4 linked regions of the Homo sapiens genome follow. The protein of the gene in region 4 interacts with the protein of the main gene of each other region in a biochemical or structural test. Each region holds a gene or a part of one and is shown on either strand. Other genes may lie near its edges.

Region 1 (9,010 bases), on a different chromosome or scaffold from region 4:
CACAAAGCTCGGGGCAATGTCCTCGGCCTTAGAACCAGTCTTCCCGCCTTCAGATCTGCTCTTCCAAGAGGAGAGCTCCCTGGAGAGCCACAGTACTGTCTCTTTAGGCCACCCCTCCCATCGTTACAGCAGGGTCATTTATGGCAGCCACTAGAACCTCGTTTTTAGAGCCTTCCATTGTCCCGGGGCCAGGGAAATGTCCTTTGTCCTAAACTTACTCGAGCTGCCTTCTCTAAGAAACCTCTACTGTCTCCTTTAATAAAAGGACACCCCCTTTCCACCAAGCTTGTTAATGGAGGAGAGGCTGGACCTTTCAGCCCTGACTCACTTCCTCCAAAATTCCTCTTGCCCTTGGGGACTTCCATAAAGTATGGCCACCCATGGAGCTGGTCTCACTGGAACTCCAGCCAGCTGTAAACCCAGAATTCTCCCCTGCTCCGCCTTAAACTCCAGCATCACAGCTGGGGAGTGCTGACGCATTTAAACAAGACTTTCTGAAAGACTCAGGTTTGCCAGCAGGGCCATCAGACATAGTGGCCTGGTGCAGAACATACTCCCCTCCCTGCTCACTAGGGGAGACTCTCCCATTCTGCCCCCAGGCCCCACACCTTGGCCTTATTCCGCAAATTAGGATAACTGGGTGTCGGGGGAGCATAGAGAGGGACAGTCACTGGAAAAGACTTAGATTTGCTTGGAAGAGAAAAGGAAGGGGGACAGAAGAAAGAAGATGGGAAACAGAGCCTTGAGCCTGCGTGTGAGGACCGGGAATCAAGGGGGAAAGCTTTGCTATGCAGTGAGAGATGCCAGGCGCCAAAGAAAAGGGGAAGAAGGACTGAAGAAGTGCTGCTGGGGTTATGAGCTGGATTCCCTTTAATGTTCTTTCAAAAGATGCAAGTAAATACTGGGATTTATTTCTTTATTATACTTGGTTAATGGACATTGTTTCTTTGAATGCAAAACTGTGTTCAGGCTGAGCCTCGTGAGAGCCAGGATTTTTTCAGGATATACATGCAACTTGGATACACCTGCAATCTGGCTCATGAGCTACATCCATCTCACTCCCCTTCCTCATAGATTTCACGGCCTGAGCAGGTCAAGTGCATTCTAACTCAACACAGCAGGTCTAACAGTCGTCCCAAGCATGCTCAGAGGAAGTGGCTGGATTGGCATTGTAATCACACTCCAAAAGTCCAGGAGGTACATCAGGGAAGATCCAGCCTCTCCCCTCCTCTGCGGTATTACACCCTGGTATGAAAATGTCACCTGCATTCAAGACTGCCACATCTATAAACAAATGAGCAGCATTCCTCTACCACAGACATGCAATGAATCCCCCGATTCAGTGGTTCTTGACTTTGGTTAGGCATTCATAGCTTTAAGAAAAAACTGAGGCCCAGGCTGCACCCAAGACTGATTCGATTAGAATCTCAGGGCGTAGGACCTAGGAATCTGTAGTTGGGAAAACTCCCCAGTGTACAGCCAGCTTGAGAACAATTGTCCTTATCACTGATTCATTCCAGGTTTGCTCATCAGCCAAACACAAGCCAAACTCTGATAGTCAGCATCCAGCCTCTGGAAGATACAGAACATCTGACATTCATGCTTATCAAGAGCCCTCAAGCTCCTGAAGAACTTTCTGAGCACTTAAGCATCAGCTACAGCTGGGATCAGTTTGGCAAGACACATGCATTGCTATCTTTCTGCAGACACAAAACCCCAGCTCTTGCAAAGCCTCAAAGACCCCAGGAATACTGCACATGTTATGAGTGAACTGGACCATAAACTCGGCCAGCCTGTGGCCTCTGCTGCCCTTCTGCCTAGCTCCAGCCTCTTGGCCAGCACCTCCGTTTCATTTTCTCAGATGCACACTCACCAGTGCCACGGCCCCTCCCCTGGATCAGCCATTCCCCACAGGCCTCCCTTCCTCCGCCGTCACCACTGCCACTTCTGCCACAGGCTGCCCCCTCACCTTGGCCCCCTCCTGTTGCTGCTGCCACCAAGGCACCGGAGCCAGTAATCTGTCACAAGAGTGGGTGAAAACACCTATCTTTTCCACTTTGGATCCTAAAGCAGGGGCCCCAGGGCAGGCGCACTGCTGACCCACTCTGGCAGTTTTTAAGCAAAGTCCTCACCCCAGGTACTCCACAACCAGGCCTGGGGGACTCACTGCTCCACCCCATGACTATGCCCTGCTGCCTCTCGCTCCTTCTTGCACAAACAGTCTCTCACTGAATCCCTAGGACACAGGTGAAGCTCAAGGGAGGGGTTCCTAAATGCCCTGATACACTTGGAAAGTAGTAATGTAGCAGACCAGTATTCTGCAACTTTCCTCACTGCAAAGCTGGATATAAGCTGCAGAGCTGGGGAGGATGGGTTAGGTGGGAGCCGGGATCACCTTGGGAATATCACCCCACCCCCTCCAAGCTGGGGAGTAGGAATTTGCAGTGGTGGTGCTGGGTGTACTCTGGGGGCACCAGGGGTCTGGAAAGGGCCCAGAAGTTGGGTGAGAAATGCATAGGGGGGACCTAATTTGTTGGGGTTTTAAAATATATATTTTCTAAAGTTTGGGACTCCTATAACAATTTTTAAAACCTGTGTCTTAAAGCTACATACACAAAAGCAGCGGTCCTCTGGCTCTCTCCCCACGTCTCTAGGCCTGCTCTCTAATGTGAGCTCCTAGGTATTTAATTCATCATCACCTGAAATGTGCTTTTACCCCCTCCCTTAATTCACTGTATAGCCCCTAATGACTCCTTGCTGATAGCTGAGCATTACATACTCCCCGCCCCACCCCCAATATTGCTGGGGTCCCTCTACTTGATTCTCCATGACATCTGGGGACACTGTTGGCACTCCAAACCTGTTCTCCACCTTTCCTTCCCAGGCTTCTGCCTCTACCCAGGGTCAGTGGTAGCTTTAATTTTACCAAGATTATGGGATGGAAAGAAGTGCCCAGATTTCAGAGGAATTTACACCCTAGAAAGACAAGACTCAATAACTGGTTGGATGTGAGGAATAATCAAAAGGGGGGTGCCCTGGGTGGCTATGGGGTCTTGGCTTGTGCAACCGGGCAGAGAGTGGGGCGAGCCAGTGAGACGGGAGGAGAAGGTGCTGAGTTTGAGGTACCTATGGGCATCCATGCGGAGCTGTTGGAAGGTCACTGGCCATGCTGGTCTGGCAGGCAGGTGCGAGTGTTGGGTATCAGCTACCCCTGGGCAGTAACTGAAGTCAGGGGCGTGGCTGAGAGCACCTGGGAGAATACACAGACTGAAAAGAGGAAAGGGCCCAGCAGCAAACCTGCAGGAGCACCACAACCAAGAAAAAACAGAGCCTGCAGAGGAGAGGGAGGAGTGCCCAGAGCTGCATCCGAGCAGGCGATCTTTCCAGGAAAGACCGGGCCCAGCGCCGGTCAAGAATAATAACGACTAAACGCGACACTGCACCTAGAGGCACAGAGGCCACCCTGGTACTGGCGGGGAAGCGCAGGAGGTGGGGTGAAGAAGGGGCAAGGAGGGGGCTGAAGTGTAAACAAGGAGAGCAGAGGAAGGGGAGCCGACAGCTGGAGAGAGAAGTGGGTGGAGTTTTCTGAGATGAGAAAGACCTCATTCAGGGTGTTTAGTTCAGAAGGCAGTGGATACATTAGAAGATGCAAGAGAGATGAGGAGGAGGAGTGAGGCTCCCAGGGGGTCAAGGGCTGGGGCCAGGACACAGGGTGAGTCCTGGAGGCAGGTGGACATCCCTTCCACCCTAACGAGGGCAGGGAAGGGGTGCGATGGGGATCTGTAAATAGCAAGATGTCAACTGTCCCTATGCCATTGGAGAGCTCCTGTTTTCTCCCTGGAGCAGAAGGTGCCGCCATCAGCTGAGGGTGAGGCTGGGACAAGGGCCCAGTGAAGAAAGGCAGGCGGGGGCTGCCCTGCAGAGCAAAAGGACATGCTGGGCGGAGCACCAAGGAGCCCTTAGCAGTCACAGGCAACCACTCATAGTTTTCCCAGGCCTTTCTCCTGCAGATCTCGGTCTCCAGGTGGCAGCACAGAGGCGACAAGCTCCTGAGTCCTTCCAGGATTTTCTGCTGGGCAGGGAGCTGCAATTCTGATGAAAGATGGGATGAAATGGGGAGTGCGCGGGGCTGGAGGGAGGCGAAGGTAGGACTGAGAGCTCAAGGAACAGGAGGCTGCGGTCAGAGTCTGAGAGGACCGGCTGAGGGACCGACAGTGCTCGGTGATGGCAAGGTGCAGGGCACGGCCACGGGGCAGGCAGCTGTCTGGGGGAATGGGGTGACAACCCCTGAGAGGTTAAGGAGTGGCGGGCAGGTGGGTGGAAATAGAAGTCACTCAGGAGGAAGGCAGGACCTGAGCAGGGAGAAGAAATCTGGGAGGTGAATGCTCACGTCTGCCCTCAATGAGGGTGGGCAGGTGGGTGTCTGGGATGAGCTGGGGAGCATGGGGCCCACCCTGAGAGGGACAGAGGATCTTACCAGACGGCCAGGAAGGGGCTGGAACAGTCCAGGAAGCAGGGGGCCTTGACCCTACCTCCCACCTCTGATGCCCATGAGTGTGGGAGGAAGAGGGGACATGGTATCCCCAGAGGAGAACTGAGTTCCAGCATAGGGAAGAGAGAACAGCCTGCAGGGAGGAGCTGGATCCATCGGAGAACGCGATGGTCGTGGAATAAGGGTTCGCAAGGGTGATGGTTCAACAAGTGTTTATTGAGCAGCCACATCTGCCAGGTCTTGGGATAGCCAGTCCCTGTGCTCATGGGCTTAGATCCTGGCAGAGGCCTAGTGGAGAGGCTTGGGGTGGGGGTCGGGGCATGGAAGGCTGTGCTATTGGCCAGGGACTCAGAATACAGGAGAGTGCAAGGGTGACAGAAGTTTCTTTCTTGGGCAAAGAGGCCTGGAATGGTGGCTTGAATCTCAGCCATGCCTTAGCCTTCCCCTCTCAGCCAGAGAAGACCCAGGTCTCCCTGCCCAGAGGTCCATGCATAGCCATTCATTCGTTGATTCATTCCTTAACCAAGAATTAATGAGTGCTACTCTGTGCAGGGCCTGTAAGAGCATGGGCTGGAGGAGGCAGCTCAGGGGCCGGGCAGGGGTGTTGGCTGCAAGGTTACAAGAGAAGGGTAGCACTCTCAGAGGCCTGCTTGACGGGCGCCTGGGACTGGGCTGATGGGGGGCCTTTCTGGGGCACAGGGTGGTGGGAATGTAATTGGAGAGGCTTCCAGAGGCACTTGGACTTGAGAGGCCTCCATGGAGCCTCTGACAGAGTCCCCAGGGGGAACACCTGCTCCAAGAGTCTGGGCTCTGCTTTCCCCTGCCCCCACCACGGAAGACATGTCAAGCTGGGAAGCCATGGAGGAGAAGGGGAGGGCAAAAAAGTTGTTGAGCCACTGGGATAAATGGGAGGAGCCCCGGAGGGAGCGGCTGCGGGATCGCACAGCCCCTCGTATCCGGTGGGGTGGGCTGATGCCCCTTTGCAGCTGGGCAGGATGTTCCTGGGCATTGGCAGGATGGTTGAGGGGCCCTGTGATGGCAGGAGTGCTGGCTTGGACCACATGGGGAGACCAAGTCCGAATAGGGGCCCGATGCAATTGAGGGTGCAAGCGGAGGGCATGGCGAAGGCGGATGGCTCTCTGTGCTCTGTACAACAGGTAGCGGATCCCACGGTGGACGGCAGGGCGCTCCTGGTGATCAGGAGGCTCGCTGTGAGGCTCAGCATCGGGGGTGGCAGCCTGCTCAGCGGGCTGGTGGGGAGGCCAAGCTGGGGGGTGGTATGTGCCACAGGGCAGGCTGGAGGCTCCTTGTGCTCTCAGCAGAGACTGGACTGGCGAGGAGTGGGCTGGCGAGGAGTGGGCTGGCGAGGAGTGGGCTGGCGAGGACTGTGGCTCGGCGGTCTCCATGGGCTCCATGCACTTTCCAATACAGAACCTCAGACTGAGGGCTGGAAGAGACCTCAGGGGCCACCCAGTCCAACCTTTCACTCTATTCAGATCCCCTTTTCCCCTGGACAGGTGATAGTCCAGCCTCTAGTAATAAACCTCTAGGGACAGAAGGGTCACTACCCACGAGGCCACCTGTTTCACTGTGGAATGGATTTATATATCTTTCTACATGGATGGAGTCAAACCTCACTTGTTTGGCCCCTATATAGCTGCCCTGTGGCCTGACACCCCTTCACTGGCCCCCACTGGCTGTAATAAACCAAGGAATGGATTCTTGTCCAGCCCTCCTCACTGAGGACTTAGAGGACAGAAAATGCATAAGGAAGCTCCAGACAAAGGTCTTGGACATTCCAGAAAAGAGACAGGGCTCTGGACACATGCTATCAGCATTTCAGAAGAGCTCCTGGCCCTGGTGTAGTGGGAGGGCTGGGGTGGTCCAGGCATGCAGCTGTCATTTGGAGACTGTCCTCAGCACAGCTTGGGACTCAATGCCTCACTGGAAAATTCCCCAGGCGCAAGGCAAGTCTGAGAGTCACCTGCTGTGGCTGTGCCCCCTGGGACCTGAAATGGGGGGAGGCAGGAGTCCTGGGCTGAACTTCTGGGCCACTCACCGAGTTTTCGGCATCTGAGTCTTCCGAGCTGCTGATCACCACAACGCGTTCCTCTGAAACGGGGAAGGGGAGATGCATTATGAACTGCCTAGGATGCATGCTGGGAGGGGTGTGGGTGTGCACCTATGGGAATCCTTGCAGGCCAGTCGGCTGGGGGAAACGGATGCCCTGCAGGGGGACGGGAACAGCCACTGTGTGTGCCAATGTGACTCTGCTTTGCATTTGGATTTGAGTAATTCACAAATGGGTTTCCATAATTTCTTGCTGTGCCTTATCTATGAATATTCAATTAAGTTATCTGCCCAGAATTCAGAATTTGCCCCCTGTACAGGAGGCCTGACAACTGCTACCTGGTCTGGAACCTTCTGCAATCCTAAAGAAGCACACTGTCCCCATTCTCAGCTCCATGAGCTGGGATGTCTAGAGTTAAAAGACGCTTCATTTAGTTAATCAAAACCCATCGATTACCAATAGCATTTGTGGGTAAGGAATATCAGTCAGTGCTCAGTGTGTGACCAAGGCTAGGGCTCAGTCAGAATGAGGAACAAAGCTGTACTCTGGGTGAAGCAGATCCTTAGAACTCTCTTGTTCCAGATTCCTCTGGGTTGACCTCAACTCCTGCCCAACTGACTACCTGCCTGGCAGTGTTCATAGAAGATAACTCTGACAAATGAGATACTTAGGTAGGTGGCCTTTGCAGAAACACTTGGGGAAATGATGGGTGTAGACTGAGAGAGCAGAGTTAAGGTCATGGGGAGTCCAGTTTCCTGTTATGGTATGCCCAAGCCCTCTCTGGGAGTATGCTAGGCATCAGCCAACAAACTTCTTGTGGAGACCTGCCCTGTGCAAAGGCACAGTAGTGTTTGGGAGAAAGGACTCATAGAACTGTGCATTTTAGCCTGTCAGGCTCCCCACACCTCAATCATGGCAAAACACATGGTAAACTGTGTCCACTCTCACCCCCACGCACACTGTGAACTTTCCCTATCTTATTCAGTGGGAATAAGGGACTCCTGTTGGCTTTGGGCTTTCTGGATGGGGCCAAAATACAGAAGAGGGGCACCGCCCAGACCCTGGCGGGCAGCACCCAGGCCACTGCCCTACCCACCTCCCTACCTGCCTCCCCGGCGCCACTGGCCACGTGGTTGCTGTTGGGCAGGAAGACCTCACTTCCTATGACGGGGCTCCTGGGGCTAGGCGGTCCATCCAGGTGGGGTGGTGAGACTGCCTTGGAGGTGCTGGGCCTGGGCTGCTCCGGGGAGCTCCGAGCCAACCTTGCCTCCTTCCCCTCCTCAGACTCCATCTTGATGACCTTCCTGGGGCACTGGGTCTGGCTGCACTTCCTCTTCTGGGCTGTCGTTGTATTGGAGACATCCTGCATAGAGGGAGTCACAGAGCCAGGTCAGGTGCCTGCAGGGGTGAGTGGGCAGAGCCTGCCCTGACTGCCAGGGACTTGTGGCCACCCTTTTGCTCCTGCTGTCCCCTCTCCTCTGCTCTCAACCACGCAGATTACGTCTCTCTTCAGACAGGAAGCCTTCCCAAGCTGGTACTATCTGCTGTCCACCAGTCTCTGCTGGCCTCTGACAACCCTGAGTGTCTCAGCACCCCTGCTGGGCTGGGAGTGGGCCATGCTTATGGGAAGCTCCCTGACCATGCAGCCAAGAACAGGGGAGAGCACAGAGAAGGCGTTGAGCAAACACTTTCCCACAAAGAGCTGATCTGATGAAGGCCTGGATTCCCACCCCAGTGCCAGCTCACTTTCCTGGTGGAACTCAGGCCTTCAGGAGGGAAGGCTGGGGCTGGGGAGAACCTTACCTCTCCATAGGAAGGGCCTTTGATGGAGAAGGCGTACACTGGCACGGGGTGTGCCCCGGGCACTGACTGTACCACAGCCATAGGCTGGGCTTCAGCCAGCCCCAGGGCCTGAACCTGGGCCTTCACTCTCTCTGCCTCCTCGGGCTGCAAAGTTGGGAAAATTGAGTCAGAAATGACTAGGCAGCAGCCCCAGGGCCAGGTACCCCAGACCTGTGGTTGGCCTAATCCCTGGGGCCTCACCAAGTCACAGGTCCAGGCTCCCTGACTCAAAGCTCCGAGCTCACTGGGGACAAGAAGTCCTCCAAACTCTCCATCACATCACCTCCTTTTTTTAAAAAAATTTTTTTGTAGAGACAGGGTCTCACTATGTTGCCCACGCTGGTCTTGAACTCCTGGGCTTGAGCAATTCTCCTGTTTCAGTCTCCCAGAGTGCTGGGATTACAGGCACGAGCCACCGCGACTGGCATCACCTCCTTCTGACTCTGAGTTACTGGAGCCCAGGGACCACTTTGGTTGTTGTGTGTCCTAACAGGGCTGGAAGATACCCCAGGAATCACACTGCCCAACTCAGGACATGCTCAGTAATTAGCCCTACTTAGACACACACCTCCAGGGACAAAGTGCTCACTACTGGCGAAAGCAGC
Region 2 (9,010 bases), on a different chromosome or scaffold from region 4:
CAGTAAATAAATCTTTGTTAAACAAATGAATTTCCTAGATAGCCTGAAGTGCTCTCTTGAGTAGCCCAAGTACTTATTCCTCCCCCGCTTTTTTTTAATGCTTTCATCTATTGAAAGGCACAGTCGAAAGAACACAGTCTTTGGAATTGGACAGATAAGATTTCTAATCCTAGCCTTTCAAGAGAAATTATCTTTTTGAACCTCCTTTTTCATTTCTGTACAGTATGAGTAATAATTCTTTTTTATATATTATGTTGAGGTTTAAATAGTATAGGGATTTTCATTAGGCTTAACTAATACATAAAACATCTAGAGCAGAGTTTTACATGTAGAGCACTAAGTATGTGCTCAAAAACATTTGCAGTTATTATTACTATATGCCTCAATTATATGAGAAATAATGCATCTCTTTGGAAAAGCAGATTTTCCCTGCATTTTGTTTTCCGGAGCCAGTGGATACCTTGATCCATTGAAGAAAACTGCTTGTCCCTACATTACTTGTTTATTCAAGAAATACTATATGGCTGGGCATGGTGGCTCATGCCTGTAATCCTAGCACTTTGGGAAGGCCAAGGTGGATGGATCACCGGAGGTCATGAGTTCGAGACCAGCCTGGCCAACATGGTGAAACCTCGTCTCTACTAAAATAAAAATAAAAAAAAGAAAAAATTAGCCAGGTGTGGTGGCGGGTGCCTGTAATCCCAGCTACTCAGGAGGCTGAGGCAGGAGAATCTCTTGAACCCGAGAGGTGGAGGTTGCAGTGAGCCGAGATTGTGCCACTGTACTCCAGCCTGGGCAACAGAGTGAGAGTCAAAAAACAAACAAACAACACTAAATGCCTACTCTGTGCCAAGCACTATTCTAGTTGCAGATCATTTTTTTTTTTTTAAGAGACAGAATCTCACTATGTTGCCCAGGCTGGTCTTGAACTCTTGGCTCAAGCGATTCTCCCACCTCAGCGTCCTAAAGCACTGGGATTACAGGAATGAGCCACCATGCCTGGCCTCTGATCCAGGTCTCTTAACTCCCAATTTGATGCTCTGTTTACTTGTTCTCTATATTTAATAGTTTTCTTTGGAAAAGTGTTCACTCTTCTTCTTTGTGTTTCTGTGATAGATCCTGCCTAGTTAGGAGTTTGGAGATAAGGAAGTTTGAGAAAAACAAGAGGCTCTAGGACAATTAATCATGTCTGTGGCTCTGCTCAGCATATCACTTGGGTTGTCAGCAGAGCCACATGGACCTAGAATTGGCCTGTCATCTTTGGAAGGAAGTTGTGTTGCTGATTCTCTGCTTTGGCTCATTGGCTTGTTAGCCATTTGATGTAGATTATTTTGTGTGTGGGGATTTTTAATAAATCTTTCAATCTGAGTCATTTGGGAAGAGCAATGTTCTAGCTTAATGTATTATTTTGAGAAGTGATGTCCTCTTTCACGTAATGTTGGTCTCATGCAAGTAGGGAGCTATGCCAAATGTAGTATCTCTGCTGAACTTTGGGTCACCTTTTTAACTAATATGTATCCATATGATTTTAACTAATATGTATGCATAAGGATTGTGTCTCCTTAATTCCTAGTTACAATTATTTTATGTCATTTAGATTCCTTTTACTTATTCCATACTTGTAAAGCACTCATATAAACAATTTAAATGATTGTTTTTATTGATGAAAATATTTTAATTTTCTCATAAGCCTCCTGCTCATTTGTCAAATTTTTCTTTTCCTACCCATAGTTCTACTTTCTTCCAGGCAGAGCTGTGGATCAAAGAATTGTAAGTTATTTTTGGTATCATTTTTCCTTCTCAATCAGTTCATTTTTAGTTAGAAGAAATCAAACAATTAGCTAATCATCCTGCTTATTTTTTGCCAATAAGAAGTACCTGTTTAGGCTGGGCGCGGTGGCTCACGCCTGTAATTCCAGCATTTTGGGAGGCTGAGGCAGGTGGATCATCTGAGGTCAGGAGTTCAAGACCAGCCTGGCCTTCATGGTGAAACCTCATCTCTACTAAAAATACAAAAATTGGCTGGGCATGGTGGCACGCGCCTGTAATCCTAGCTACTTGGAAGGCTGAGGCGGGAGGATTGCTTGAACCTGGGAGGTGGAGGTTGCAGTGAGCCGAGATCACGCCACTGCACTCCAGCCTGGGCAACAGAGTAAGACTCCATCTCAAAAAAAAAAAAAAAGAAGTGCCTGTTTATACTTTTAAGTTGTTGGGTTTTCAAAATATTGTTGGAGTTGGAACATTTCTATACTTATGTTTATTAAATCTATAACAATTGTTGAAGCTAAATTAAATTGGAAAAATAGAGTTAGCTATTATATAATAGGGAAAATAAATGATCCTATTTTGGCATTTGTAAAACTAATTTATTGAATAATTCATATTTCTGGACTTTGCAAAATCACTGAAAGCATTTAGTCTCACTTAAGGAACTTAAGTTATCCAAACCCCTCGGTCTCGGTAATTTTTTAAAAATCTATCAAAAATGAAGTATTTGAATTAAACTTCAGTGATATCTTGTATTCGTTTCTCCTTTAGGGTTCAATCCCATTTTTGGATTTCCAGACTGAAGTTTCGCTTTCACTATAATCTTAAAAGCATGTTAAGAAAAGAACTGTGTGTTTACAAATGTTAACAAGTCATCTGTTCACATTTAGCAGCACACTAATATTTTTAGTAATTTCAGTAAAAATAGGTCGGGTGCAATGGCTCACATCTGTAATCCTAGCACTTTGAGAGGCCAAGGTAGGGGGGTCGCTTGAGCCCAGGAGTTTGAGACTAGCCCGGGCACTGTAGTGAGACCCTATCTCTATAAAAAATAATAAGTAAAAATGGTAGAGTAATTTCAGTAACATTATGTGGTTTCACTCTATGTCTTAAAATAAGGATGATAAGTTAGTGTAAGGATTTTAGACTTTCTTTGTGAGGGTCCTGTATTTAATATTCAGTGTACATCAACAATATGTTTCATAATGAGAGTGGTCTACATTTGGTCACGTTCCTTTTCATTTTCTAGAACTAGTGTTTATGATTCTCGAGCACGAGAAAGATTGCGCCAGATTGAAGAACAGAAGGCATTGGCCTTACAGCTTCAAAACCAGGTAAAAAAGAAAATTGGAATAATATTACAAATAAATAGTACATCAAAGTAGAAACTATTTTGGAAAGTTACCCAGATTTGGGTAATTGCTGTTGTAATTCCAAGATCGTATGGTAGCATAGCATGTTATGATATGTCGTAAATGTTCTTGGTCTGTCCAGTCAGTGCTACTCATTGTACATAAGACAAATATAGATAGTCCCCTACTTGTGATGGTTCGACTAATGATTTTTTGACTTTACAAAAAAGCGAAAGCAATGGGCATTTAAGCACGCTCTTTGACTTATGACAGGTTTATTGGGACATAACCCTATCATAAATCAAGGAACATCCACAGATTTCTTTATCCCACTTACTCTGAAGTTTTATCTTTCAGAGATTGCAGGAGCGGGAACATTCAGTACATGATTCAGTAGAACTACATCTTCGTGTACCTCTTGAAAAGGAGATTCCTGTTACTGTTGTCCAAGAAACACAAAAAAAAGGTCATAAATTAACTGATAGTGAAGATGAATTTCCTGAAATTACAGAGGTAAGTTACATACACTTAATTTCTACACTACTAAGTATCATGTTTAGAAAGAATCCCTCGGATGAGTTTCAAACATAAAAGCAATAGTGGTCAGGCACGGTGGCTCACGCCTGTAATCCCATCACTTTGGGAGACTGAAGCGGGTGGATCACTTGAGGTTAGGAGTTCGAGACCAGCCTGGCCAACATGGTAAAACCCCATCTCTACCAAAAATACAAAAATTAGCTGGGTGTGGTGGCATGCACCTGTAATCCCAGCTACACAGGAGGCTGAGGCAGGAGAATTGCTTGAACCCGGGAGGCAGAGGTTGCAGTGAGCCGAGATCATGCCACCGTACTTCAGCCTGGGTGACAGAGCAAGACTCCATCTCACATACACACACACACAAAAAGCCATAGAACACGTGTTATTTAAATTTTCTTGTATATTTCAGCTTTCGCTTATTTTATATACCAATCTGGGCTTTATTTTTAAAATATTGAAAATTTATGAAAGAACTATGGGTGGCTTTTAACAGTTTCAGTGAAGAAGCATTTAATACATTTGTCTTTCATGTCATGTGCATTTTTACTTAATGCACACATACAATAGTTTGACCTCAAATTGTAAGCTGAGATTTGCTCTTTTTTTAAGTAATAAAACCCATTATAGAAAATTTGGAAAATACATGGAGGTCTGTGTACATTTTTAGATAATCCGTTTCTTTATCCATACTTCTCTTTGAAACACTACCATGTAGCTGGTGAGCATAACACACTTATTATAGTTGTACTGAATTCCATACTTTACATTTAAAAAAAAAGATCTCTAAGAAAGTAATTTCTAAAAGATACTGCCTTTACTCTCTTACTACCTTTTATGAAAAATTCTGTTTCTCAGGAAGTCATTTGGACCAGAGATATAAAATACAGTTAATTTTTCTCATGTGCTTAGAAAATTTGATAGCGGAAGGTTGTTCCAGACTTTAGGAATTAATATGGAAACAAGGATCTGAATGTTGTGCTGAAAAAGAGAAGGGAGGACTAGATGAAGTGGAAAGAAGTAATCGGGGATTACTGGGAAGGAATAGAAACCAAAATGTTAGAAGTAAACTGATTAACAGTAAATTTATAAACAATCGAATGGTGATAAATATAGTCTGAGGATTATATGGGGTTTGGTGAGAAATACGGTTTTTCTGAAGCCACGCGTGTTTGATGTCTTGACACCTTTTGTTTTCTTAGGAAATGGAGAAAGAAATAAAGAATGTATTTCGTAATGGGAATCAGGATGAAGTTCTCAGTGAAGCATTTCGCCTGACCATTACACGCAAAGATATTCAAACTCTAAACCATCTGAATTGGCTCAATGATGAGGTAATGTTGCATCTATTTTTACATACAAATAGTAAACATTAAGTGGCAGTTAAATTAAGGCATTATCTCACTTTTTCTCAAAATGTGGTCCATGGATGACCTGCATTGGAATCATCTCTCATAGGCCTCTTCATTCTTGTAACTATGAGGGAGTGTGGTGGAGACAGGCATTTTTAACAAACATCTCAGGTGTATTTTAAAGTCTGAGAACCACTGAATTTACCTTTTCTTGTTGAAGATTTGAACATTGAAGAAGACATTCACTCATTGGTATTCTCACTCTTTAAGGCTCCTATTCTGCAGTTCATCTCTTCTGAACAAATAAGTATTAGCCGACCATGTTGCAGCATGAGGGAATACTGTGGGATTTCTTTATAGGAATCCAGTTTTACTTCCCTTTCTACCTAAGTTCTACTCATTTTAGATCACTTATATTACGAATGACAAGCTTTCCAAAATCGCCTCCATTTATGTATGATATTTTTTAAATGGACATTGAAAAAGTTATATTATTATTAAATATTTGAGGTATTGGGGGAGAAGTTACGGTCTTCACCTCCTAACTCCAATTTATTTTAAGTATATTAATTACACTACAGTTTTTAAACTGATCTGTTCCTAAGCCTAAACCTGTAGGTACCTGTTTTATTTTAGAAGGTTATTTTTACAGCAAAAGAAAACTGGGTTGGGTATCTTTTCCTAAGTACCTTCTTTGCATAAGCATCCCTGGCTAATCTGGGTATACTCAAGCTTCACAGCTGTGGAGGATTTTTAGTTTCTCAGTGTAGTAATCATTAAATATTTTAGATATCCATATCCTGTTTTTGTATGATCAAGACCTTCCAAATAATATTTGCCAATAACTATTGATCATTTACCTCATTAGTACGATTCATGTTTTATGTGTTTTATTCTTGTAATAGTCATCATATCTTTGGAAGTAGATATGATAGTTCACCATTCTGCAGATAAAGAAACAAGGCATAGAAAGATTTAAAAACTTGCAAGGTTATACAGCTAGTAAACAGCAGAGCCAAGATTAAGACCCAAGCATTGGGTCTTATCTACTATATCTTAACTACCTCAGAATCTTAAATTGGATACTGGTCTTAGGATCAGATATATAGAACTTAGGAGCCATATATCATGTCCAGGATGCTTTTTTTCTCTGGGGCCAGCCCCATTCTTTTTGCCACTGGTTGGTTTATAAGATAAAAATTTCAGAAGCTCATCACTCCCTGAATAATATCTGTGACCAAGAATAATAAGGAAGGCATGGTTTGTTACTGTCTTTCTTTAGAAGAAACCCTCTTTGCCTCTTTTGGCTCAGATATTAGAACATTGGTTCAAATAATGGAAAAAAAGAGCTCACCAAATCAAAGGAGGAAATTAAATCAAGGATAGTTATAAGTATCCACTGATAAGTTATTTTTGATCTGTGGTCCTTTGCCATTTATTTCCTGCCATTGCTGGTGGTGCGAGGTCAGTTACTCTAAAGGGATAGTAGGCTTTAGTTTGTTGTAAATCATGGAAAACCTCCTAGAGGGCAGCAATCAGTAGGATATGAGCTGAGTTCTTGCTATTTACTGTGGCATTTACCTCAGTGAGATTCCTTACAGAGACAGCATTCATCAGGACATATTTTCCATTCCCTGGGCCCATCAGAGGCTGGATTTTTAGCAAGCTAAGTTAATGGAAATTACATTATTTTAGAGGAGATGAGAAGAAGGAAAGATTCTTTGTCTACTTTATCCCTACCACCCCTAGCCATAACTTTTGTAGAAGGAGTGCATTTCTTCTCAGTTCAGAATGATGTTATCCTTGAAAATGAGTGCCAGTTCACATGTCCATAATAATGATGGGAGCTATCTTAAAAAGCACCATTTTCAAAGTACCATACTTCGTAGGCTTTCAAAGTTACTGCCCTTGAGAAGCTAACATCCTGATGGAGTATTATTAGGTATCCTTAAGTATTGATACTCATTGAAGAATACTTAATTTTGGCCAGACACAGTGGGTCATGCCTATAATCCCAGTGCCTTGGATGGCTAAGGTGAGAGGATCACCTGAGGCCAGGAGTTCAAGAGCAGCCTGGGCAACATAGCAAGACCCGATCTCTACAAAAAAATTAAAAATTAGCCAGCCATGGTGGCATATGCCTGTAGTCCCAGCTGTTCAGGAGGCTGAAGCAGGAGGATTGCTTGAGTTTAGGAGTTTGAGTTTATAGTGAGCTATGACTGAGCCACTGTACTCTAGACTGGGTGACAGAGCAAGACTCTGTGTCTTCAAAAGAATACAAAACTTAATTCTGTTTCTCAGTTGTGAACTATCAGTCTTTTGCAAATGATTTGTCCTCTGTTCAATCCTCTTCTTCCCTCAAGTAGATATTTTCATTAATAATAATTTCTCTTCTTTTTCTGTTTCCTGCTTTATAAGATGTATTAAAACTTTCTCCAAAATAGGTGACTGATACATTGTTCTTATCATTTTATAAACAAAGTACCATACTTTGTAGGCTTTCAGAGTTAAAAAGTAATATAAGAGCAAGGAAGTAAAAGGAATCAGATTCAGTTTATAAGGAAAATAAAATCCAGAAATCCTATGTTTGGGATATGTATGGAAAGCCATTAGGATACCCTGTTCCTAAAAGAAGAGTGACCACAGTACCTATTCATACAGTAGGTTTTAAGATTTTTTTCATAAATGGATTTCTCTATAGGTCAGTTTGGTTAAATTCTGTACAACTTCAAAGGACTAATGATTGACAGGATTAATATAATAAAACGTCTCAAAAATGGAATGTGGGAACTGGCTGCCATATAAAGAATACAAAAGGAGGCAAGAAGACTGTTACAATCAAGACACCGTAGATGGGGATTTCTATACTGGGTCAGGAGATTAGTTACTAATAGAAATATCTAATTAAGGGAAGGGAGGATAGAGTTAAAGAGAGGAGAAATTACACTGGGAGCAGTGGCTCATGCCTGTAATCCGAACACTGAGAGGCTGAGGTGTAAGGATTGCTTGAGCCCAGGTTGTCAAGGCTGCAGTGAGTTATGATTGTGCAACTGCACTCTACTACAGGGTGAGTGACAGAACAAGACTCTGAGATCCTGTCTGTTTTTTAGAAAAAGGGAGAGAGGAAAAATTAGTTGCAAAAGTAGAAGTAGATTGAAGCAGTCAAGAAACAGAAGGAAATATTTTCAAATGGGTGTCATTATTAGAAACTATGTATTAATTCCTGGAGATTGAATTGGATGACTTCTGGAATCCCTTCCAACTTTAAGATTCTAGGTGTATTATCCTGAGTACTGCTTTAGGCTTTGTGTTTCTCTTTATGGCCAAATGGTTCTCCTTTGAGGGACTAAGGATTGTTTTAAAAGGCATCAGATAAATTTAGAAATACATGGATATAATTTAGGTATACAAGTAAATAAAACTTACTTTTGCTTCTGGTCATGATAAAGGAAACAAGATTTACCCTTTCAACTTAACTAGAAAATTAGACAAAAGATGAAACAACAATTTTCAGACATTGGATAACAGGTAGTACCAGGCAGTGATCCCTGAGGAAGGGAAATAAAAGGTATGTATGCTATAATATCCCCAGCTTTCTAGGGTGGGGTGTGTGTGTTGTGAAGGAGGGACTGGTAGAGTCTGTGCAGAGGGGCTTCCCTCCAGTCTTTGGCTGAGTACCAATTTGTGCATGTATGAAAAGAAGCTACCAGAGGCTGGGGAAAGAACCACCAGAAAGAAGGAATCAGCAGTCTTAGAGCCAGCACAGGTGTCAATAGTTTATGTTCCAACCAGTTAAGAGTAGAAAAACCTCCTAAGTCACAGGGCATTGAATAGAATCTTCAGAGGGGTATTGCCTCAGAAATAGGGCAAAACTGACCCTAGAATAAAGGCTGCTCTGGACCCACCATCACAAAGCCTAAAAACAAACCTCAAAAGCCTGAAACTGATCCAAATAACCTATATCCCAGAGAAAAGCCAACAATGTTTAAAGGAATACAACGAATT
Region 3 (4,767 bases), on a different chromosome or scaffold from region 4:
GGATTACAGGTGCCCACCACCACACCCAGCTAATTTTTGTATTTCTAGTAGAGATGGGGTGTCATCATGTTGGTCAGGCTGGTCTTGAACTCCTGACCTCGTCACTGGCCCAACTCCGCCTCCCAAAGTGCTGGGATTACATGTGTGAGCCACCGCGCCCGCCCCAAATGTTAATGTTAAGAGGTATTAACTCTGGTTGTGAATTTGCAGAATTAACTTTCTTTACCTTATCGGTATTTTCTATGAACCCCTATTACTGATATAATTAAATAAAAATAAAAGGAGACAGGGTGGTAGTGTGGGATCAGACTTTATGATCACCATGAGGAGGGGGGTGTTGCTGGGAGGCCGTGGAAGGGGAGTGGTAAGGTTGCCCAGTGTGTTCTTAAAGTACATACTGCCAAGAACTCTCTCTGTTGCTTCTCCTGGCACTTTCCTAAGAAGTGTATTCCAAAAAATAGTTCCACAGGTGTCTCATAGAAAAGGGTTCAATGTCCAAGTTTTGGGAAATGCTAGGTTAAGACATAACTCGTTCATATCAAACTTCTTATGATGTTTGTTATACATCCCCAGGAGGAAAGGACATGGTACACATATTCATTGGCCCACAGACCCTTTGCTTTATATCCTTTAAAAACAAACAAACAAAAAAAAACAACAACAAAAAAAAACTGAGGTCTTGCTATCTTGCCCAGGCTAGTCTCAAACTCCTGGGCTCAAGCAATTCTCCTGCCTCAATGGCCCCCAAAGTGCTGGGATTTCATATTTTTTATACAAGTTACAAGACTTCTACTTAACACATTTTAGGAAATGCCCATCTGAGAACCTAAAGATTGTTTCCACCACATATTTCCATCAAAAGTCTCAAAGCTGCTAGTCTGTTTTCCTAGATTTAGATGGAGTCATCTCAAAACAGCCTCACATTTATAATATATATGGTATTTTTTGGTCTCAGGCTTTATGGTTTTAAACATCATTTGCCTCGCGGTCAGGTCACTTAGAGCAGTATTTTCCTTCTCTGCATTATCTGTCCATTAGTGGGCAGAGAAATCAACTTGGTGGTTACAACCTAAATGTTTTTAAAAACTGAAATAAAACTATCATCATAGTAAGGATATGTATTACTTCACAAAAGTGTATGTGCAATGTTGTTTGTGTCCATATACAATCACACTGTGTGTGTGTGTGTGTGTGGTCACAACATAAAATACTTATTCCTATGAGTTGCAATAAAAAACAAGTGAAAGCCACTGAATTAAAGAGATGAATTTATTGGTAAATAGATAAAATTAACACCTATTTTAATATATCCAAACCCCTTCCTTATATATATTAGGTAAATTAAAAGAAAAAAATTATCAAAGCAATACTACAGCCAGCTACATCGCCAATTTACAAATGAGTTAGTAAGTACCATAAGTTTGTTTGAATATCAGGTGCTTCAGAGTTTTTCTCAAACAGTTACAAAAGAGATTAGGTTCCCAATCAGTTCACAAAAGCTAATTTAAAGAATGTAGCTTAACTACAGTACTGAGGTTGTCACACACTTAACTTTCGGTCTCTTGCTTATTTATTCATATCTGAGGTTCACTGTTTCTACTAGGATACATTCCGCCCACACCCACACCTTGGTCCCCACATCAAGCAGCTCCTCACAGCAGGAAGACATCCGCTATCAGACATGGTTTTCTGAAGTTGTGCTTAGGATTTCAGAGGAGGAAAAATTCAGAGGTTCTAATAGCCTTCGGTAACTGAGGTAGAATATGGGGCTCCCAAGAATATCTTCCATATGCCCCAAATCTGTTTCCCTCCCACCCCCATCCAGCTCTGTTCAAGGTCAAGTTTGAGAAAGATACGTGTTCTCAATGGTATATTTTTAAAATCCACATCAATTTTTAAGAGACTACCTGCTAAAGGAGAATAATGGCTCACTGCATCTTTTCTCAACCCCCTAAACTATTTTAAAAACACACTGGCAGGGACAGGTGCAATGGCTCACGCCTGTAATCCCAGCACTTTGGGAGGCCGAGGCGGGCAGATCACTTGAGGTCGGGAGTTTAAGACCAGCCTGACCAACATGGAGAAACCCCGTCTCCACTAAAAATACAAAATTAGCCAGGGGTGGTGGCACATGCCTGTAATCCCAGCTACTCGGGAGGCTGAGGCAGGAGAATCGCTTGAACCTGGGAGGTGGGGGTTGCAGTGAGCTGAGATAGCGCCATTGCACTCCAGCCTGGGCGACAAAAGTGAAACTCCGTCTCAAAAACAGGCTGGGTGAGGTGGCTCATGACTGTAATACCAGCACTTTGGGAGGCCGAGGCGGGTGGATCACCTGAGGTCAGCAGTTCAAGACCAGCCTGGCCAACATGGCGAAACCCCATCTCTACTAAAAGTACAAAAATTAGCAGGGTGTGGTGGTGGGCACCTGTAATCCCAGCTACGCAGGAGGCTGAGGCAGGAGAATCGCTTGAACCTGGGAGGCGGAGGTTGCAGTGAGCTGAGATCACACCATTGTACTCCAGCCTGGGCGACAAGAGACTCTGTCGCAAAAAAAAAAAAAAAAAACAAAAAAAAAAAACAAAAAAAAAACCACTGGCTTTAATGGTGATAATTTGCTACTAATAAAATCAATAGCTGTTTTTCAACTGAACACTTAAACTTTTAGATCCAAATAAACTGTTTGGATCTAAAAAACTATATTACTAACATGTTTCCTTATGCCAAGGGAGACATGTGAGTGCCTAGAGAAGTATGGCCTGTGGTCTCCCACATTCAATTCAGGAACTCAGGGTCAAGCAGAAGGCCATGCTATAGACTTCAACACTCTGCTCTTCCCAATTTCATTATGTCCTGCAAGTTTTAAGAGCCGTCCGGAAGAGTGTAGGTTAATGGAAAGCTCAGTGAGAACTGCTCTGAAGAAGCCCCTCAAAATAATACATTAAGCTCAGCATCATTCACGTGGGCGGAATACAAACTGACATTCCTAACAGGACTTACCTAGCATGGACTCGATCTTAACCATGGTACCAAACTCTCAAGTGAAGCACACTGATGCCTGGTGAAAGCCAGGCGTTTGGTATGATGCTGACCTAGTGAACCTCTGGCCTTTTTGGCTGTGCTCATTACCTGGTCCCAGCACTCACTGGCACAATGCCAGGAGCCCAGAGAAAGGAGCAGGGGCTGCGGGGGGGGGGGGGGGAGGGGGAAGGGGGGAGGGAGGGTGGGGAAAGGGGAGAAGGGGGGAGGGTGGGGGAAAGGGGGAGGGTGGGTGTTAGGGAGAGAGGGAGGGGGAGGGAGGGGGAGGGGGGGGAGGGAGGGAGGGGGGAGGGAGGGAGGGGGAGGGGAGAGGGAGGGAGGGGGAGTGGGAGGGGGGGGGGAGAGGTGTGGTACAACCTGCTCCCGCTTCAGTCATCACCCACCACATGGCCTCTGGCTGACCATCCAGTAGGCCCAGCATTTTCCATCCACACCACAGGCCCCATGTCCTAAACCAGGAGTTTTACAAGTCTCAGGGAACTGGCTGCAATAGCTGTAACCAGTATACCTCTGGGACCAGCAGCCGGAGCACTGCAAATGGCAGGCGTGTAGATTCATAGGTAACACGTGCACAATTTTTCCAGTTTTACCTCTTGCTTTTATGAACCAGAACAAGTCTGGGAGGTTTAAGTAGGGAGAGGGTTAGAAATCATTTCAGCATATACTTTTTTAGGTTCTGCCAGACCACCTTTTATTACATCAGAAAAGCAACACTAGGCACTAGATCTTGCAAAATATGTTCTGACCAACTCTAAACTGTCTGAAGTTATAACCATATCAGTAAGGTTTTTAATGAACAAAAAAGTTAAATACAAACTTTCATATGCAAAATAGATTATTGTATAACTGGCAACCTCAGAGCCAAGTACTAAATTTTCTTCCACAAATTTCAGTGGGGATGGAGTGGGGAGATGTTAGTCTTAATGAGTAGAAAACTTAATTTAGACTTAATATATAGAAAACAAAAACTCTGAGGAAAAATAGCTTTAAATTGAATAGTATCTTTTGAAATAAACAGCTCAGGCCAGCCCCTACAATTCTGAGGTTTATACTCAACCAGATCTGGGATGAAAATGAAGATTTAGGGTTTACAGTTACTTCAAATCCATGAATCCAGTTTGAAGACTAAGCCAAGTCACCACATTTCCAGAAGGGGAAGTCTCTTTAAGGTGACCACAACACTCTTCGGAAGATGCTTGGATAATCAGAGTCCCTTGGGCACAGTTCCACTGTTCACGGCACTGTGCCAACGCTGTAGTGTCAGACTTCCTCTGAAAGGCAACAGGAGCCCTATCCCACAGCATTTTCATTTCTCCCAGCATTTTTTGAGCCTCAAAAAAACAAAAACAAAAAAAATCCCAAACCCTCCAGCTTCATGTTGGCAGTTACTGCTCCAGCTCCACTTCCTTCCGCCCCCAGTGAGAGTTCCCTCCTGCTCTTCAGCAGGGAGTGGCAGCTTGAGTAACATTCCTTTCAGAAATAAATAGTTCAAACAAGTAATTTAGAGCTAACTGTAAAAGAGCAGCAGTAAATGACCACTGCCCATTATGTTTGCAAACGAGTGAGTGAATGAATACGCTGAACAAACACACAGAAACAAACAATTCACAGAATAAATCCTGCATTTCCCACATTCATAGGGAAAAGAATCTCTTAAAAAAAATATTAGTTAGCGTTTGTTCTTGTGTGGGTTGAACAGTCCAAAGCTCTGAGCAGGCACAGCCTTACAAA
Region 4 (9,010 bases):
TCTTTGTTCATTTTTTCCACGAAGGACTGTGAGCACCCACTGTGTACCTGGCCAGGTCCTAGGGGTAGAGGACACAACAGGGATCTACACAGGCAAACTCCCTGCCCCAGGGAAACTGACATGAAGCCCCAAAAAATGCCCAGTTTGGCAGGGGTGGTGGCTCGCACCTGTAGTCCGAGCACTTTGGGAGGCCAAGGCAGGAGGACCACTTGAGCCCAGGAGTTTGAGACCAGCCTGGGCAACATTAGGGAGACCTCGTCTCTATTACTAAAAAATGCACAAATAAATAATTTTTTTTTAGAAAAAGAAAAATGGCCAGCTTGCTAAATAAATCATAGGAACTCCCAAGAAGGATAAGTCAAGCAGGGAGAATCAAGCCAGGGAGTTAGTGTCGGGAAGGGCTTTGTTGGTCAGACGCAGTGGCTCATGCCTATAATCGCAGGGTTTTGTGAGGCTGTGGCAGGAGGAACACTCAGCTGGGAGTTGGAGACCAGCCCAGGCAATATAGTGAGATCACGTCTCTACCAAAAAAAAAAAAAAAAAAAAGCATACATATACATATACTTTTTTTTTTTTTTTTTTTTTTTTTTTTTCGGTTAACTGGATGGGCCGGGTGCCGTGGCTCACGCCTGTAATCCCAGCACTTTGGGAGGTGGGCGGATCACTTGAGGTCAGGAGTTCAAGACCAGCCTGGCCAACATGGTGAAACCCCATCTCTACTAAAAATAGAAAAATTAGCCAGGCATGGTGGTGGTTACCTTTAATCCCAGCTACTCAGGAGGCTGAGACAGGAGAATCGCTTGAACGATTCTTGCAGTGAGCCGAGATCCCACCACTGCACTCCAGCCTGGGCGACAGAGCGAGACTCTGCCTCAAAAAAAAAAAGAAAAAAAAAAATTAGCTGGATGTAGCTCCTGTGGTCCCAGCTATTTGGGAAGCTGAGGTGGGAGGATTGCTTGAGCCCAGGAGTTTGAGGCTGAAGTGAGCTATGATGGTGCCACTGTACTCCAGCCTGGGTGACAGAGCAAGGCCCTGTCTCCAAAAGCAAAAGAGTAGAGAAAGGGCTTTATGTGACCAGGGAGAGTATGAAGAGCTATGGCTGTCCCATTCCCATTCTAGTAGGTCCGAGAGCAAGCAGGGCCAGACTGCCAGGGGCCCCAATAAAGCATTGTAGGGGCCCAGGCAGTGTCACTTGGGGCCAAGGTAGTACAAAGTGGTTTTGAAGGAGTTGAAGATGAATCCAAGGATCTGAATGAGGAGGGCCAGAGCTGGTGAAGCTACGGCATTCACAGGTTTTGGGAAGGACTGGAGCCAGGTCCTGAAATTGTTGAGTGGAGGTGTCTGGGGTGTGTGCGAGTCTGGCATTCACAGGGAAGTCCGGGCCAAAGACTCCAGTGGGGGAGGCATCAGTGAATAGATGGTGCTTCAGGCCTGTCTTAGTCAGCTCAAGCTGCCACACAACAAAATATCACAGACTGGGTGGCTTAAACAACAGACATTTATATTTCAGAGTGCTGGGGGCTGGCAGTCTAGATGAGAGTGCCAGCGTGGTCAGGTTCTGGTGAGGGCTCTCTTCATGGCTTGCAGACAGCTGCCTTCTTAATACCACCGTTATGACCTCAATTAACCTTAATTAGCTCCCAAAGGTTTTATCTCCAGATACAGGCACATTGGGGCTCAGAGTTTCAATCTGTGAATTTGGAGGGACATACTTTGTCCATAGCAGAGCCCTGAGACTGAGCCCAGTCCCCTGGAGGTGAAAACCCTTTCTGGAAGGGCCACACTCCCCATCCACTACTGCCCTTCCTAGATCTCAGCTCCAGTGTCACCCCTTCTGGGCAAGGTCAGGCACCCCAGTGTGTAGCACATTGATCTGTGTGACCAAGGATGAATGGCCCTGTCTCCTGCTGGACTGTGAGCTCCAGAGGCAGGGCTACTTTGTCACCATTGTGGCCTGCCCAGGCAGGGACCTGGCAAATATTTATTGAGTAGTTGTTGGGAAGTCATGGAAACCGTGTGCTGTGCCCTTGGGTCTCACCAGAAGATCTGCTCAGGCCCAGGGCCAGGACTAGGCACTGTCCTGGCCAGGAAGGTCCCAGCTGCCCTGTGGCCTCCTGCCCTTGTCCCCCACACCCTCAGGGGTGCTGATATGCTGAATTTTAAGGAGAGATGATTCTCATATGGTTTTCTGCCCTTGGGGAGTTTATAGTCAAGTGGGACTTAGTTTCCTCAGAGGTAAGCTTAAGGGCACTGTGGCCGGGGTGGGGCAGGAGAGGGACATCTTCTCTAGCCTGGAGAAGTGAGTAGCTGAGGGTGGAGGAAGAGGGTATTCCAGGCAGGGTGCACAGCTTGGGCAAAGGCCTCGCTGCAGTAGAGGAGGACCAGGCAGTGTGTTTGAGCCTGACTTAGGTGGGGATTTGGTGGGGACTAGAACCATTAGGTGGTTTAGAGACCTCAATCCTCGACTCCATCCCACCCCTGCTTCAGCCAGCAGGTGACCCTGCTAGGGACCTGCCAGCGAGAGACCCGTTTCCTCTGAGTCCAGTCATGCTAGCTCCCTTCCTGGGGCTAGCGTGGGTGAGGGCTTCTTGCAGGGGCCCACATAGTTTTTCTCCTGAGTCCATTGGGCAGGATTGGGCCGGATTGGGCCAATCACAGAGGGATGGAGGGGTTCCCAGAGATGGGTCTGCTCTGGCCCACACTGCAGCTCACCCCTGTCCACTCTGTGCGGGGGCCACTGGGGAACTAGACGAACAGCATTCAGGTCACTGTGGCTCACAGACCCGTCGCCCCACTCCGCTCGTCCCCAGCAGCATGGAGGGAGGGAGAGCTCCCGTGCGCTAATTGGCTGAGCTATTTGGACCAATTGCTAATCAAAGGCTCCAAAGCCCTGGGTGCTGTGGTGCTGGGCTCTGAAGCTGAGGTTCACAAGGTATGGGGGACCTCAGTCTGAGCATCAGGTTGGCTCTCATTCTCAGGAGGGGACCTGGGCCACCTTCCCAACCCCCACATCTCTGTTGCCTCCTATTATCCCCGTAACCTTTCAGTCTCCATTGCCAAATGGGGGGGTTCAAGACCAGCCTGGACAACATAGTGAGACCCTGTCTTTAAAAAAAAAAAAATTACCTGTGGCCGGTGCTGGGTGCTTGGTAAGGTCACCTTGAAGCAGTCCTGTGCCCGTTCTGCACTGTTTTGTTTGTTTGTTTGGTTGGCTGGTTGGTTGGTTGGTTTTGGTGGGGTAGTGGGGTCGGGGGATGTGGTTTTTTGTTTTTGCTTTTTTTGTTTTAGAGACAGGGTCTCGCTCTATGACCCAGGCTGAAATATAGTGGCACAATCATCACTCACTGCAGCCTCTAACTTTTTGGCTCAAGTGATCCTCCCACCTGAGCCTCCCAAGTAGCTGGGACTACAGGTGCAAGCCACCAAGCCCCACTAATTTTAAAATTTTTTGTAGAGATAGGGGTCTCACTATGTTGCCCAGACTGGTCTTGAACCCCTGGCTTCAGGGGCTCCTCCTGCTTCTGCCTCTCAGAGTGCTGTGATTACAGGCGTGAGCCACCGTGCCCAGCCTCTCTGCACTGTTCTTTAACACATTTACAAATATTTACTGAGCATCTATTTCATTCTAAAGAACTAATCTTGAATAAAACCAGCCAGAATGTTTGCCTTCATTGAGCTGACAGTGCCCTTGGAGGGGTTAACTGTACATACACCTCTTTTTTCTTTTCTTTTTTTTTTTTTTTTTTGAGATGGAGTATCACTCTGTTGCCCAGGCTGGAGTGTAGTGACTCGATCTCAGCTCACTGCAACCTCCACCTCCCAAGTTCAAGTGATTCTCGTGCCTCAGCCTCCTGAGTAGCTGGAACTACAGATGTGCACCACCACACCCGGCTAATTTTTGTATTTTTAGTAGAGACGGGGTTTCACCATGTTGGCCAAGCTGGTCTTGACCTCCTGACCTCAGGTGATCTGCCCGCCTCAGCCTCCCAATGTGCTGGGATTACAGGCGTGAGCCACCGCGCCTGGCCTGTACATATAACTCTTAAAATGCTGCCCTGACCCTGGGGCTCACTTTCAAAGATGTCCACACTCTGTAGGCCAGGACCCCACCTGTCCCATACCCTTCCTGGCAGCCCTGTCCCTGCTACATCGCCCTTCAGCTACACCAGCTTTCTTTGGGTCCCTGGACCACACCTGATACCTTCCCGCCCAGAAGTGTTATCTCTGTCCTGGCAGTTGCTCAACCTTTTATGGTCCCTACCACCAAGGCCATCTGCTTGGTTGACATACCCACCCCAACTGTAATTAAATCATCCCCGGTGTCTCCTCACTAGACAGCTCCACATAAGCACAGCTGGTCCTTTTAGGGCTGTGTCCCCAGCACCTCCCACAAAGGAGGATGCAGTTCATCAGGATGGGTTGGATGAACAGCCCATTTTACAGATGAATAAACTGAGGCACAGGCAGGTGCAGGATTTTGGCAGCACTGCACACCTGTCCTGGCTTTGTCCTCCTCCCTGGGGAATGAGCTTGGAGCACCCCTCTAGGAACTGGGATGCCAGCCTCTTCCCTTGACCATCTTGGTCCTTGTCATGTGGGCCCCAGTACCAGGGGTGGCTTTAATTTGGCTGCCCAGGGAGGTGGTTCAGGGCTGCCAGGACCCCTGAAGTAGGCTCTCTGGGCTCTGTCCTTTGCCCCCCAACATGGTGCCTGTTTCTCCTGCCTCTTCATGCAGAGTGGCCAGCTCCTGGCCCATTCAGCTCTGAGTTTGAGCTCCTGGGCGGAGATTTTTGTTGCCTTGTAACTGGGATTCCTAGATCCAGCCTCCACCCTCTGATTGCCCTAAGGAGGTTTTGGGGTTTTGTTTTGTTTTGTTTGTGTTTTCGTAGGATGGTGGCAGTGATTTTGAGGAGGGGAAGAGGAAGGAAGATACAAGCAAGGGAAGTCACAGGCTGTGGTGCCTAGGCAGACCCTGGTTTGAATCTTGGCCTTACCACTTTTTGCATGTAAGTGGTAGGGGCAGCAGATAGCTCAGGACATATCTTGGGTTTTTTTGTTTGTTTTTGTTTTGAGACATAGTCTCACTCTGTTGCCCAGGCTAGAGTGCAATGGCACAATCTTGACTCACTGCAACCTCCACCCTCCCGGGTTCAAGTGATTCTCCTGCCTCAGCCTCCCGAGTAGCTGGGATTACAGGCACCGGCCACCACACCCAGCTAATTTTTGTATTTTTAATAAAGATGGAGTTTCACCGTGTTTGCCAGGCTGGTCTCGAACTCCCGACCTCAGGTGATCCACCTGACTCGGCCTCCCAAAGTGCTGGGATTGGCCAGGTGTGGTGGCTCATGCCTGTAATCCTACACTTTGGGAGGCCAAGGCAGGTGGATCATTTGAGGTCAGTAGTTCAAGACCAGCCTGGCCTATGTGGTGAAACCGCATCTCTACTACAAGTACAAAAATTAGCCGGACATGGTGGCACACGCCTGTAGGCCCAGCTACTCAGGAGGCTGAGAATCACTTGACCCTGGGAGGCGGAGGTTGCAGTGAGCCGAGATGGCACCACTGCACTCCAGCCTGGGTAACAGAGCAAGACTCTGTCTTAAAAAAAAAAAAAAAAAAAAAAGTGCTGGGATTACAGGCTTGAGTCATCCCGCCCTTCAGGACATATCTTTTGAATTTTGAACCTGGTGAATGAATTTTTAGATGACCTCAGGACAGTCCTCAATTTCCACATGACCTCAGTTTTTCCAGCTTTGCAAGGGGAGTATGAAACCAGCCCTGAAGTCTTGCTAAGAGGATTCGGGGAGCTCATAGAAGTTGTGAGTTGGTTCCTCCATTCGCCTGGGTGTTGTAAGGGGCAGGGCCTGTGTCTTGCTTGTGGCCTGCCAGGGTAGCAGCTCAGTAAGTGAGATGGTATCTCACTGTGGTTAGGATTCACATTTCCCTGATGACTAGTAATGTTTCCGTGTAATTTCTTGAATGATCATTCAGTAACAATAAGTGTAGGTTGAGTTTGTAGAATCAGGTTGACCTCCTCAGCCTCGATTTCCAAATGGAGAAAGCAGAGATTTGGAGCTCCTGGTCAGAGGAGCAGGTCGGTGCTGGAGCCAGGACTCAACCTTAGGTTGTACCTCTGAGCCTTTGAACACTTGCCGTTTCTATTCCTCACAGCAGCCCTTTCAGACGGAACGGGTGTTACCAGATTAGGAGGAGAGTGGCCACTGTATTCTCAGTGCCCAGCCCAGGGAGGCAGATCTGAGTGGAGTTGCTAATGAAACATGGAAGGTGCTTGAGAGCTAACTGGAAGGGAGGGAAGGTGTGCATTCCTGCACCAGGGCCTTTGCATGTACTTGTTACTTTCTCCTGCTGGCCAGCTGGAGTGTCTGGAAAGATCTGCCTTACTCAGGGAAGCCTTCTCACTCGCACTCTGCCCAGTTAGGACCACTGCCCTCTAGAGACCCTATAGAATTACAGAGGAGGCCGGGCGTGATAGCTCACACCTGGAATCCCAGCACTCCAGCCTGGGCGACAGAGTGAGACTCCATCTCAAAAAAAAAAAAGAAAAAAGAATAAACCCCACACACCTTTGCCTTCCCTTTGCTTTCCCTCACCACACCCCCATTCTCCCCGCCTCCCAGCCCCTGGCAACCACTAATCTGCCTCCTGTCTGCGTGGATTTGCCTGTCCTGGACATTTCCTATAAATGGATCATACAATCTGTGGTCCTTTTGTTTGGCCTCTTTCTGTTGGAATAATCTTTTCCAGGGACATCCATGTTGTAGCATGTGTCAGAATTTCCTTTCTTTTTATAGCTGAATAATATCCCATTGTATGGACTGACCATGTTTAGTTGGCCCATCCATCCGCAGATGGACGTTTGGATTGTTTCCACCTTTGGGCTATTGTGAATAATGCTGCTGTGAACGTTTGTTTACAGGTTTTCAATGCAGGCAAATGTTTTCGTTTTTCCTGGGCATAAATTCCAGGAGTGGAATCGCTGGGTCATATGGTAACTCTCTTTAACCGTTTGAGGAACCGTCAGACTGTTCTCCATGGTGGCTGTGCCATTTGACATTCCCACAAGCAGTGGAAATGGGTTCTGGATTTCTCATCCTCACCAACTTTTTTGATTCCAGCCATCCTAGTGGGTGTGAGATGGTGTCTCATTGTGGTTAGGATTTGCATTTCCCTGATGATGTTTTCTTCTAATTTCCCTGATGACTAGAGATGTTTTCATGTAAGTTATTTATTTATTTATTTATTTTTGAGACAGTGTCTCTGTCTGTATCCCAGGCTGGAGTATAGTGGCGCAATCACAGCTCACTGCAGCCTTGACCTGGGCTCAACAACAGATCCACCCCCCACCACACCCTCCCTAGTAGCTGGGACCACAGGTGTGCTCCACCATGCCGGGGTAATTTTTGTATTTTTCGTAAGAGGCAGGGTTTCACCATGCTGCCCAGGCTGGTCTCAATCTCCTAGGCTCAAGTGATCCACACGCCTTGCCCTCCCAAAGTGCTGGGATTACAGGCATGAGCCACTGCACCCAGCCTCATGCAATTTCTTTTTCCTTTTTTTTTTTTGAGACAGTCTTACTCTATGCCCCAGGCTGAAGTGCAGTGCCACAATCTCGGCTCACTGCAACCTCTGTCTCCTGGGTTCAAGTAATTATCTGGCTTCAGCCTCCCTAGTAGCTGGGACTACATACCCACACCACCTTACCTGGCTAATTTTTGTATTTTTGGTAGACAGGGTTTTGCCACGTTGGCCAAGCTGGTCTCGAACTCCTGGCCTCAAGTGATCCGCCTGCCTCAGCCTCCCAAAGTGCTGAGATTACATGAGTGAGCCACTGCGCCTGACCTCATGTAATTTCTTGAGTGGTCATTTAGTCATTATACAAACAGTGATTGAAGGGCATGTGCCCAGCACTGCAGACTCTGCTGCACAGTCAGATGACCCTGCCTTTCTGGCATTTCCATGCCAGTACCCTGAAGAGATACCATATATGTACCTGGTGCTTGCAATAGCTGGCACTCAGAGGTAGCACACTGTGTCCTAGCCACTCTTCCGAGCACTTAAGCATATTCAGTTACTCTTCAAGTACATATGAATAAGTATGCCTTTGCCCCCTCCTCTTTGCAAGGGATAGCGTGTGGCCACCCTGGTCTGCAGCTAGCTTAGCAGATTTGACCACATATTGTAAAAGTGAGTCTGTACCAGGACAGATAGGGTAGAGGGCTCTGTGTGGTTTAGCACCATGGTAGATTCCATCGTGCGGATGTCCCTCCAGCAGGGGAGGTCTTTGGGGCCAGGGCTAGGCCAGCACCCACATTTGCCGCCTGACCCCGTCCCTCCGTCTCTGTCTCTCCATTCCTCCCTGCCCCTCGTGCAGCCGCTGCCATGGCCCAGACACTGCAGATGGAGATCCCGAACTTCGGCAACAGCATCCTGGAGTGCCTCAATGAACAGCGGCTGCAGGGCCTGTACTGTGACGTGTCAGTGGTGGTCAAGGGCCATGCCTTCAAGGCCCACCGGGCCGTGCTTGCTGCCAGCAGCTCCTACTTCCGGGACCTGTTCAACAACAGCCGCAGCGCCGTGGTGGAGCTGCCGGCGGCTGTGCAGCCCCAGTCTTTCCAGCAGATCCTCAGCTTCTGCTACACGGGCCGGCTGAGCATGAACGTGGGCGACCAGTTCCTGCTCATGTACACGGCTGGCTTCCTGCAGATCCAGGAGATCATGGAGAAGGGCACCGAGTTCTTCCTCAAGGTGAGCTCCCCGAGCTGCGACTCCCAGGGCCTGCATGCGGAGGAGGCCCCATCGTCGGAGCCCCAGAGCCCCGTGGCGCAGACATCGGGCTGGCCAGCCTGTAGCACCCCGCTGCCCCTCGTGTCGCGGGTGAAGACGGAGCAGCAGGAGTCGGACTCCGTGCAGTGCATGCCCGTGGCCAAGCGGCTGTGGGACAGTGGCCAGAAGGAGGCTGGGGGCGGCGGCAATGGCAGCCGCAAGATGG

Evidence for each region.
Region 1: the proteins of NACC1 (region 4) and PML form a complex in vitro, tested with the Homo sapiens proteins (one study listed by BioGRID).
Region 2: of the proteins of NACC1 (region 4) and SENP1, one has a biochemical effect on the other in vitro, tested with the Homo sapiens proteins (one study listed by BioGRID).
Region 3: of the proteins of NACC1 (region 4) and SENP2, one has a biochemical effect on the other in vitro, tested with the Homo sapiens proteins (one study listed by BioGRID).

What each region holds. Positions count from the first base shown.
Region 1 is NC_000015.10:74,032,072-74,041,081, reverse strand, and holds part of PML (protein PML), read right to left. Parts: intron 8,511-9,010; coding exon 8,367-8,510; intron 7,927-8,366; coding exon 7,668-7,926; coding exon of another isoform or gene 7,660-7,667; intron 6,605-7,659; coding exon 6,552-6,604; coding exon of another isoform or gene 6,426-6,551; exon of another isoform or gene 5,911-6,425; coding exon of another isoform or gene 5,131-5,910; exon of another isoform or gene 5,076-5,130; coding exon of another isoform or gene 5,022-5,075; exon of another isoform or gene 4,688-5,021; intron 1-4,687.
Region 2 is NC_000012.12:48,059,687-48,068,696, reverse strand, and holds part of SENP1 (sentrin-specific protease 1), read left to right. Parts: intron 1-1,731; coding exon 1,732-1,770; intron 1,771-3,016; coding exon 3,017-3,101; intron 3,102-3,476; coding exon 3,477-3,632; intron 3,633-4,855; coding exon 4,856-4,987; intron 4,988-9,010. UniProt on the Homo sapiens protein: Protease that catalyzes two essential functions in the SUMO pathway.
Region 3 is NC_000003.12:185,630,036-185,634,802, reverse strand, and holds the end of SENP2 (sentrin-specific protease 2), read right to left. Parts: 3' UTR 1,252-4,767; downstream 1-1,251. UniProt on the Homo sapiens protein: Protease that catalyzes two essential functions in the SUMO pathway.
Region 4 is NC_000019.10:13,126,808-13,135,817, forward strand, and holds part of NACC1 (nucleus accumbens-associated protein 1), read left to right. Parts: intron 1-8,392; 5' UTR 8,393-8,400; coding exon 8,401-9,010. UniProt on the Homo sapiens protein: Functions as a transcriptional repressor. Seems to function as a transcriptional corepressor in neuronal cells through recruitment of HDAC3 and HDAC4. Contributes to tumor progression, and tumor cell proliferation and survival.